Linked DNA regions of Homo sapiens: region 1 is linked to region 2. Evidence: fine-mapped expression QTL. A gene starts in region 2. The other region holds a variant in brackets. All regions are shown on one strand. Distances are from middle to middle. Region 1 overlaps MRPL58 (mitochondrial ribosomal protein L58). Region 2 holds the start of ATP5PD (ATP synthase peripheral stalk subunit d).

Evidence for each region. PIP is the estimated chance that this variant, and not a neighbour inherited with it, causes the effect. A credible set is the group of variants that fine-mapping cannot tell apart.
Region 1: its variant is the best candidate, but not a certain one, in a credible set for the expression of ATP5PD in pancreas (GTEx, PIP 0.79).

The regions. Positions count from the first base shown.
Region 1 is chr17:75,020,108-75,025,426 of GRCh38, reverse strand. MRPL58 (mitochondrial ribosomal protein L58) reads right to left here. Exons shown (of 6, transcript NM_001545.3): 4 at 5,032-5,114; 5 at 4,770-4,939; 6 at 4,166-4,506. The coding sequence ends at 4,422. Among named protein-coding and RNA genes, the nearest start is that of MRPL58, 10 kb to the right of the region's middle. RefSeq lists a silencer at 79-236 and an enhancer at 4,400-5,319. The variant G/A (reference allele first, on the strand shown) is at 2,562.
Region 2 is chr17:75,044,212-75,049,580 of GRCh38, reverse strand. It overlaps ATP5PD (ATP synthase peripheral stalk subunit d), which reads left to right and starts at 2,612. Exons shown (of 6, transcript NM_006356.3): 1 at 2,612-2,656. It overlaps KCTD2 (potassium channel tetramerization domain containing 2), which reads right to left and starts at 2,356. Exons shown (of 6, transcript NM_015353.3): 1 at 1,992-2,356; 2 at 253-361. The coding sequence starts at 2,330. RefSeq lists enhancers at 2,373-2,667, 2,552-3,137, 3,076-3,145 and a silencer at 2,246-2,675.

The DNA.
Region 1 (5,319 bases), 24 kb after region 2:
TACAGCTCATAAAGGTAGTGCAGACCCAGAGGAAGCAGCAGCAAAATTTATTGTGAAGAGCAAAAGAACAAAGCTTCCACAGCATGAAACAGCACCCCAGCGGATTGCCACTGCGGCTTGGGTGGCCAGCTTTTATTCCCTTACTTGGCCCCACCCACATCCTGCTGATTGGTCCATTTTACAGAGAGGTGATTGGTCCGTTTTTACACAGTGCTGATTGGTGCGTTTACAAACCTTTAGCTAGACAGAGTGCTGATTGATGTGTTTACAATCCTTAGGTAGACAGAAAAGTTACCCAAGTCCCCACCCGACCCAGAAGCCCAGTCGGCTTCACCTCTCCTAAGGAGATGGTAATTGTGCTGTAGAGGTCTATGGCAGCACTGCCTGCTGAAGTGGGGGACAATTGTTGCACGTTTGTAAGGGCATGGCTGTGCCTTGGTTTGTTGAGGGGCTCGAGGCAGGCCTCTCTTCCCGTTTCCTGAAAGAGGTTGTCCATCCTTGTTAAATTTAGAATGACACTGACTTGCCCAGTGTTTGCTTTTCTTACACTGGAGACATATACCGGGACTTTTCTGTTGACTGATGGTAGTAATGTTTGCCTTTTGATTTCCTTTTCTACATTCCTTTCTTGGGTGTCCAAATTGACCACAATTAAAGCAAGGGCCTGAGAAATGGGGTATATTCTTTCCTACTCTTAATCCAGCCATAGCCTGAGCTAAAAGAGTTGCCTTATGTAAGTTACCTCCAATGCCATCGCAATCCTTAATATATTTAGCTAAATGAGCCGTCCCTCTCAGGGGTCTAATAGCAGTTTGACACTGCACTAGCATTTTCGTATGCAGGAAGCTGTATTACAACATCCTGAGCCGTTTTATTAGTAATGGCTTTATACACAGCCTCTTGGAGCTGAGCAATAAAATCAATATATGGTTCTTTAGGTCCTTGACGGATAGAACTGACAGAAGGATGTTTTTCGCCTGTAACATTTATCCTTTCCCATGCCCATAAGCACACAAAGCGCAGCTGAACAATGGCAGCATCCTCCATTACTGCTTGATTTCTCTAATCAACCCCAGTTAGGGCCAACTCCCATTAACTGTTCAAAGGAAACAGGCACAGGTGGCTGTGCTTGTATGTTTTCCCCTGCCTGAGTTTGAGCTTCATCAGCCCACCAGGTTTTAAACTGCAAATACTGAGATAGGGTGAGAACAGATTTTGTCAAAGTATCCCAGCCACATGGTATTAATCTATTATCAAGAGCCATATTTTTTAATAGAGTTTGCACAAAAGGAGAGTTCGGTCCGTATTGACTAATGGCTTGCTTAAATTCCTTTAGTAACTTAAAAGGAAAAGTGGCCAATTAGCTGTATTCTGTCTTCTCTGCTGGATGATAGTAACAGGAAATTGCCATGCTTCAAGGTCTCCCTCGGCTCTAGCTTTATGAATAGAATTTTCTATAGCATCACCAATTGCTCCAGGTTTTAATATTGCAACTATAGGAGTAGTAAGTTTTTCAGCTAATTCATCTTCTCACCCATTAAGAGGAGAGAGAGGAGGTGGCCATTCACTTAATTTAGCAGGGGGCGCCGACGGGCTAGTAAAACATACTTTTTTTAGTTTTCCTTTCTTTAATCTCCTCCGGTAGCTGTTCCTCACACTCAGAATCTGAAGTTAGTTTTTTACACTCATCCTCCTCTTCCTCATCTCAATCTGCCTCATCATCTGTTTGAAATGGCTCAAGAGCTGCCTTTATTAGCGCCCACATGACCAAATAGAAACTGGAATATCTGCTCCCTCTTTATACGCCTTTTAAAAATCTCTGCCGATTCTCTCCCATTCATCCAACTCCATAGTCGCTTGTTCCGGAAGCCATGGGCAAAACTGCTTTACTGTACTAAAGAGTGATAACAAATTCTGAGTACTAACTTTCACTCCCCCTCTTCATAATAAATGCCAACAAATTCTGAGTACTTTCACTCCCCCTCTTCGTAATAAATGCCTTAAGAAATTTAAATAAGGCCGGGCGCGGTGGCTCACACCTGTAATCCCAGCACTTTGGGAGGCCGAGGCGGGCGGATCACGAGGTCAGGAGATCGAGACCGTCCTGGCTAACACGGTGAAACCTCGTCTCTACTAAAAAAAAAAAATACAAAAAATTAGCCGGGCGCGGTGGCGGGTGCCTGTAGTCCCAGCTACTCGGGAGGCTGAGGCAGGAGAATGGCCTGAACCCAGGAGGCAGAGCTTGCAGTGAGCCGAGATCGCGCCGCTGCACTCCAGCCTGGGCGACAGAGCAAGACTCCTCTCAAAAAAAAAAAAATAATAAAATAAATTTAAATAAGCAAAATGTCTTTCACTTTATCCCATTGTTACCCTGGTTCTTCCGAGCGCTCAGCTTTCCTGCCGAGCTTCTTTTAGACGCCTTTGGGTGTCCTTTGACGATGTGTTCTCCGCTTTCACACGCTCTAGCGTTCCTTCACCAGGGTCTTTGTCACCCCACGTTGGGCAGCCAGGAATGTTGAGGTGATCAGACCCAACACCAGGTCATGGGGGCAACAAAGTCC[G/A]GCGGAGTCAAAGGAATTAGAAAAAGACAGTTTGAGAGAGAAAGTAGCACCAGGAAGCCATCGCCAGTGTTGAGGCTGTGAAGACCCCCAGCTCTGGGAGCCCACGGTATTTATTGGTGCTCAAAGAAACAGGTGGTGAGGATGTGGGGGTTGAAAAGAAAGTGTATCAAGTGAAGGAGAAACATACGGCTGCTTGAGAGAATGGGAGTGCTAGAAGCAAGGAGCCAGCAAGTCTAGCAGACATGCAAGCCCTGCCTCAGCTTCTCTCCCAACACTCAGCTTTTCTCCCAACGCTCAGCTTTTCTCCCAACAGCTTTCTGTTACCCACATCTCTTAAAACCTTTGCCGGGTGCAGTGGCTCACGCCTGTGATACCAGCACTTTGGGAGGCCGAAGTGGGCGGATCACCTGAGGTCAGGAGTTCAAGAGCAGCCCAGCCAACATGGTGAAACCCCATCTCTACAAAAATACAAAAATTAGCTGTGCATGGTGGCATGCACCTGTAACCCCAGCTACTGGGGAAGCTGAGGCAGGAGAATCGCTTTAACCTGGGCGAAGGAGGTTGCAGTGAGCCAAGATCACGCTATTGCACTCCAGCCTGGATGGCAGAGTGAGACTCCATCTCAAAAATAAAAGAACCTAAACTCCTTAACTTGAATTCAAGGCTCTCCACATCAAGCCGGTCTCTCTCTGGGTTCACCTCCCGCTGCAATGGTGGATCACCCTGCACGAATCCACCATTCAGTGCCTTTGCCTTCTTTGTCACCCCCTCCACCTCAGCCTCTTTTGTCTCTTGTGTTCATTGTTCCCTTCAAATGGCATGTCCGCCTCCCGTCTACTGATGAAAGTCCCATGCCTTTTCCATAGCCCGGCTCAAATGCCCACTTACCTGTCTCAGCCCTCCTACCTGGTTGTGTGTGTAGTTTCTTTTTGTTTTGTTTTTGAGACGGAGTCTGGCTCTGTTGCCCAGGCTGGAGTGCAGTGGTGTGATTTTGGCTTACTGCAACGTCACCCTCCTGGGTTCAAGCAATTCTCCTGCCTCGGCCCGAGTAGCTGGGATTACAGGTGCCCACCACCTATTTTAGTAGAGATAGGGTTTCACCACGTTGGCCAGGCTGGTCACCTCAGCCTCCCAAAGTGCTGGGATTACAGGTGTGAGCCACCACGCCCGGTGGTTTTTTTTTTTTTTTGAGACACGGTCTTGCTCTGTCACTCAGGCTGCAGTGGTGCAATTATGGTTCACTGCAACCTTGAACTCCTGGGGGGCTCAAGTGATCCTCCTGCCTCAGCCTCCCAAGTTGCTGGGACTATGGACATGTATCACCACACCTGGCTAATTTTTGTAGTTCTTGTAGAGATGAGATCTTGCTATGTTGCTCAGGCTGGTTTTGACCTCCTGACCTCGTGTGATCCTCCTGCCTTGGCTTCCAAAGTGTTTGGATTACAGGCGTGAGCCACCACGCCTGGCCTGTGTGTTCTTTCACAGCAGACACCAGAACCCTTTCCTGTTCCCCAGTGCTGTGTCGATAACTGTGCGGCTGATTTAACTGAGAGAAAAGGTAGGAATTGTTTTCTGAAGCATTCTGAATGAGAAGGGAAGCCTAATGAGTTCTGATTTTTATTGTGACTAATACATGAGGTGCATTATTAAGGTTTGACAACATGGTGACTGCCTATAAAGACGTCTGCAACCAGTGCCTGCAGCCTTCATTCCAAATGAACATTCTTGTGATGGCTCCAATGTTATAGACAAGCATTAACAGCCAAAAAGAAAAACAGAAATCTCCTTATGGTGTGAAAGTCCTCTCAGCTGCAGCTGCCCGGACGCCCAGAAGAGCCCTCCCAGCTGCAGAGGGTGATTTCAGTCCATGTCGACCCTCCTGCTTGTCTTTACAGCAGAATGAATTCTCTTTTGTCTCAGCCTTTCCCGATTCATGTTTTCTATCCTGAAAACAAAAAGACTGCAATTAGCCCCAGATGCCCAATCAGTGCTTTTCAAAGTGGTGAGAGGAGTTGGGAGCTCAACGGGAAGCCGAGCAGTTACACCAGCAGGCACTAGCCCGCAGGCCTCGGTCCCAGGTCAGCATCCTCTCCTCTTCCTAGAGTTTCTCCCAAGGCCGGCCTTGGACTCTCCCCTGCCCCTTCCTTACCTGTGTAGACTCTTGTCCACACAAATCAGTTTATAGCATCTTAGGGCATTTCCTGGTACCTGATTCTATGAAGTTTAACATCTTCTTTTGTTGGCTCCTTCGGTGTCTGGCTGGCCTCAGTGATCATGTCTCGAATTTTCTGCAGGCAATCTGCCAGATTCCGGAACTGATAGCGGCTGCTCTCAGAGGTGAGGATCAACTCTCCTAACCTGTTGATCTTGTTTTTATGCTGCAGAGAACAAATGAAAAACTGGAGTCCTACAGAGTAAAGGTTTAAAAGCCACTGAGGGATTTCTAGGGAAAGAAAGGGATGGTGGTTACCGTGATGGCTATCTTCTGCCGCACGGGCTCCGCGATCCACTCGGCAGTTGCCAAATGGAACCTGACTTCTGCCTTGGAATTCACTGTGGAGGAAAGGGAGAAGGGAGCATGGGTGCCTGAGACTTCCAGGAAGGATCAACCCCTGGGTGACCAGTGACCATTCTGAAATAAAGGGAGGCCAGACACCTAACCATGTACATTGTAGCCTATGTCCAAGTTGGCTATGAACAAGCCCGCAAAGACAGTGAGGCACTTTTGGGCAAAAATAGACTTCCAGTAACTAAGCAC
Region 2 (5,369 bases):
AACTCCTGAAGTTATCTGCAAAGCGGAGCTACCTATCTTCCTTCTCACCCAGGAAGCTGAACAAAGCCTAAGGAGGCTTCCTTAATCATGACTCCCTCAGACAAGACTGGTAGTTTCTGCTCTGTTTCATAAACCTGAAACTATACCTGCACATGCGCCTGATGAAAATGTCAAACAAAATTGAAATCTGTAAAACAACTTTAAAGATTCTACTTGCATTTTGAAAATCCCCAATGCAAACAGTGCGCTTACCTTCTTCTGCCAACTCCTTAGTGATGATGAGTTTCCCGTGGCGGAGGTAGTTGAGGATAGGACCAAAGTAGGTGGGGTCCCTGTCAATCAGATAGGCTCCTGTCTCATCCTGCCAACCAAACACAAGGGTATCATTGTGGACCTTTGAGGAGTATTTTAAACAAAGGCAGGGCAGGATTTCACCATCTTTGTCAGCGCCCCAAGACAACAATTCATTCCATCAGCTAAAAAAGACTTTAGTGATGGCAAATTTTGTTACACATTTGTCACAAACTATTGGTAAGAAAGCTATAGCTTTATGTATCTTGTACATTAAGATCATCTTAGGTAGGGTGTTACAGACAGTCATACTCATTTAGGCGTTTACTTACTGGCTGGAATTTGCAATCTTTGCCTGGACAATAATTACAGTGACAAACATTCTTCTGTAGCGTGTTTGTTATTAAGAAAGGGAGAAAATGCCGTAGCTGTGTAACTGAAATCTTTGCTTGAGATGGACATTCTGACTTTTCCACTGCCTCTGAACTGCATTCCTAATTCCAAGAAAACCTCTGTGTAGTTGGCAATGCTCCTGAGCTCAAGGCCAACATCAGTGGGAGTTTGCACTGCCAGCTGTAATCTCACACACCCCAGCTCTGTGCCCAGAGGAAGCTCGGTACTGCCAGGACTTGGCTCTGAGCAGCTTTAATCCTACTCATCTTTACAGTAAAAGGAACAAGAAGAAACTGGCTTCTATTACCACAAGGAGGATATAGAGTAGATAAAAATAATTCCTTTATAAGCAAGGGTTTTGAAATCTCTTTAAAGTTAGGGCAGGATAGGTTTCCATCAATCTGAGATTTCTTAGAGAAGAGGAATAAACGAAAACAACAAATGTTTACGCAACTCCAGCTCTGTTTTGAGGTCACCAGCTGAGTGCTATATGGGATATAAGATGGTGTGAGTTATGGTCAGTGCCTTTAAGTTGAGAACTTAAAGGTGAATACGTAAAGTTAAAAAGAAATTGACACAGTTCAAACTGGAAATGGTTTAAGTGTCTTGTCACCTCTCAACCCTTTGGTTAGCAGCCATGCATCCTGCCCAAAATTTTCCCGGGAAAATTTTCATTTTCCTTCTGTCTTAGCCTAGATTTGCAGCGGCAAACAGTAACCTCTTTCCAAAAAACGCATTTGATCTAAATATGGACCTAAACCAGTGACTGTTAACAGATAAAAGTTCTGCGACCAGGACTATAGAAAAGCAGTGTGATATCACAAGGAGCGCTTCCTGCAGCTGTGGAAGCCCAACTTGGCAGAGGGGTCCGAGAGGGAGTCTGAGAAAGCTACAAGGATGCCTGAGCTAACCCTGACCCAGTTCTGGATGCATCTGGCACCGGCAGTGGGGGGACTGAAGAGGAGCCAGGGAAAACTCATGCAGATCTCAGTGGGATGTCAGGGGCAGAGAATATGGAGAAGGGGTGTGGAGTGCGTTCTCGTGGGTGCAGGTGGGCGCAGTGTGGGAAGGAGTCTCAGAGAACGAAGGGCGGGGTCGGGGAGAAAGCCAGAGTATGCCTCAGCATGGAAGAAGGGGAGTGGGAGGTCCCTCTGAGGCCCCTGCGAGTAGTGTGGGAGGGAGGGGGAGGATGGGGTCCCGGCCTGAGGGGGCTGCCTGTGAGGAGCGTGTCTCAGGACTCTGGGGACCGATCTACGAGAAACCAGGGGGTTCGAAGGCCCGGGGGCGCGCCCGAGGGCGGGGCACACCTTGTCTGAGTCCAGCTCCGGGTCCTCCTGGCAGCAGAGGCGGCAGAGAAATGACTTGGGCTCCCGGCCTAAGGTCTGTCTGGTGGTCACGAAGTAGGTGCCTCCCACGTTCAGCCTGACCCAGCGGGCCGCGCCGCCGCCCCCTGCCCGCTCGGGTGGTCCGGGACCCGGCTCCAGCGGCTGCGCGACGGCGGCAGCCGGGCGGCCGTGCCCGCGGGGCGTGGGGCCAGCCGGGCGTGGGCTGGGGGGCCCGCGGACTGGGCCACCCCCGTCGCCCACCCCACTCCCGCCGCCCCCTCCCAGCCCCGCCATCGCCGGGTCCAGCTGCAGTTCCGCCATCTTGGACCGCCGCCGCCACCGCTGCTGCCCGCGCGCAGCCGGGCCGGCCCATTTCTCGGCAGGGAGAGCCGGGCCGGCCCATCGGCGGGGGTGGGGCAGAGGGGAGAGGGACGGGAGCGCCCCCAACCAGCGCCCGGGGACCCGCGCGGGGGAGGCGCTGTGCCCGCCCCCGGGAAGATACTTCCGGAACCAGCCCTCATCTCTATTGGCTGATCTGCGAAGCAAGGCCCACCCCCTTGGCTTTGGGGTTGGCTGAGGAAAGATCTTCCCGTGACCCACTTCCGTTACTTGCTGCGGAGGACCGTGGGCAGCCAGGGTCGGTGAAGGTGAGTGGGGCTTGGGGCATTGGATCCGATCCCTGGAGGGCTCCTCTGCTCTGCCCTCTCCAAACCTCACGCCGACCCTTGTCACGCCCCCGTCAAGGACGCTGGGCCCTCGGCTTGCCCCGCTGGCAGAGTGTCCCTTGTGTAGCTGCCGCTCCTCGCCCCGCGATCCCTTCCTCAGCCCTCCTTGGCGCGCGGGGTCAGGGGGGCCCGGCTGTGTCCCAGGCGCCGCTGATGTAGGCGCTGCCACAAGCCGTGTCTCGTGCAGTCCGCTCCCAGCGCGGCAGACTTCAATAGTTTGGTGGGGGGACTGGGGAAACATTACGCAGACAGTGTTAACCTGCCGAGGGACGCTCAGCTGGCTGCGGGGCTGCGCCCTTCCCCTTCGGCAGCTTCCAGGATTCGAACGTATAGAGCGTTCAGGGCTCCTCGGGTGCAGAGTTCGGTTACTCATTCAAGAAAGATTCATTGAGCACCTCCTATGCGCATGATCTGTTCTAGGCGCTGGGGATTAAGCAATAGATTTTTAAGAATTAAAAAAAATTTCGCCGGGCGCGGTGGCTCACGCCTGTAATCCCAGAATTTTAGGAGGCCAAGGCGGGCGAATCGCGAGGTCAGGAGTTCGAGACCAGCCTGGCCAACGTAGTGAAACCCCGCCTCTACTAAAAATACAAAAAATTAGCTGGGCGTGGTGGAAGGCCCCTATAATCCCAGCTGCTCGGGAGGCTGAGGCAGGAGAATCGCTTGAACCCGGGAGGCGGAGGTTGCAGTGAGCCGAGACCACGCCACTACACTCCAGCCCAGGCGACAGTGCGAGACTCCGTCTCACTCACACACACACACAAAGTTATTTGTGACTTCCATTTTCCACTGATGTTGCGGGAAATCAGGGACCCCAAACAGAGAGACCGGCTGAAACCATGGCAGAAGAACGTGGATTGTGAAGATTTTATGGACATTTATTAGTTCCCCAAATTAATACTTTTGTAATTTCTTATGCCTGTCTTTACTGCAATCTCTAAACATAAATTGTAGAGATTTCATGGACACTTATCACTTCCCCAGTCAATACTCTTCTGATTTCCTATGCCTGTCTTGTCTTTAATCTCTTAATCCTGTCAGTTGAGGATGTATATCGTTCCAGGACCCTGTAATAATTGTGTTAACTACAAAAATTGTACAGCATGTGTGTTTGAGCAATATGAAATGTGGGCACCCTGAAAAAAGAACAGGATAACAGCAATTGTTCAGGGAACAAGAGAGAACCTTAAACTCTGACCGCCGGTGAGCCGGGCAGAACAGAGCCATATTTCTCTTCCTTCAAAAGCAAATGGGAGAAATATCGCTGAATTCTTTTTCTCAGCATGGGATATCCCTGAGAAAGAGAATGCGCACCTAGGGGTAGGTCTCTGAACTGGCCCCCCTGGGGCGTACCTGTCTCTTATGGTTGAGACTGCAGGGGTGAAATAAACTCCAGTCTCCCATAGCGATCCCAGGCTTATTAGGAAAAGGAAATTCCCACCTAATAAATTTTGGTCAGACCGGTTGATCTGAAAACCCTGTCTCCTGATAAGATGTTATCAATGACAATGGTGCCCAAAACTTCATTAGCAATTTTAATTTCGCTCTGGTCCTGTGGTCTTGTGATCTCACCCTGCCTCCACTTGCCTTGTGATATTCTATTACCCTGTTAAGTACTTGATGTCTGTCACCCACACCTATTCGTATACTCCCTCCCCTTTTGAAACTCCCTAATAAAAACTTGCTGGTTTTTGTGGCTTGTGGGGCATCACGGATCCTACCAACGTGTGATGTCTCCCCCGGACGCCCAGCTTTAAAATTTCTCTCTTTTGTACTCTGTCAAGCCAGTCGACGCTTAGGAAAATAGAAAAGAACCTATGTGACTATCGGGGCAAGTTCCCCGATACACTGATGTTTGGGAAAGTCTGTAAGGGTGCTTGGTTCCCTGGTAACTTTAAAATCACATGCCAATTGCCTTAACACCTCCCCTCCACAACAGGAAACAGGCTGTCCTGAGAAAGAAAGGAAGGACAGGACAGGTGTTTGACAACTTTCTTGAAGATCCTGAGAAAGACTGCTTCCGCCTCCCTTGCATTCCACTCCAAGCTTATAGAGATTTTTGACTTTGCAGTCTTTTAATATCTGACCCTGATCTTACTTAAAGAGGACTATTTTCCTATATTCTGACTTTTTTTTTAAGTGGCTGTAGTCGTTTTCTGTATTTTTCTCACATTTTCACATGTGTTGAATACCTCTTAAAATGCAGGCCGGGCGCGGTGGCTCATGCCTGTAATTCCAGCACTTTGCAAGGCTGAGGTGGGTGGATCACCTGAGGTCTGGAGTTTCAGCCCATCCTGGCCAACGTGGAGAAACCCTGTCTCTACTAAAAATACAAAAATTAGGGCCGGGCGCGGTGGCTCACGCCTATAATCCCAGCACTTTGGGAGGCCGAGGCGGGTGGATCATGAGGTCAGGAGATCGAGACCATCCTGGCTAACAAGGTGAAACCCCGTCTCTACTAAAAATACAAAAAATTAGCCGGGCGCGGTGGCGGGCGCCTGTAGTCCCAGCTACTCGGGAGGCTGAGGCAGGAGAATGGCGTGAACCCGGGAAGCGGAGTTTGCAGTGAGCCGAGATTGCGCCACTGCAGTCCGCAGTCCGGCCTGGGCGACAGAGCGAGACTCCGTCTCAAAAA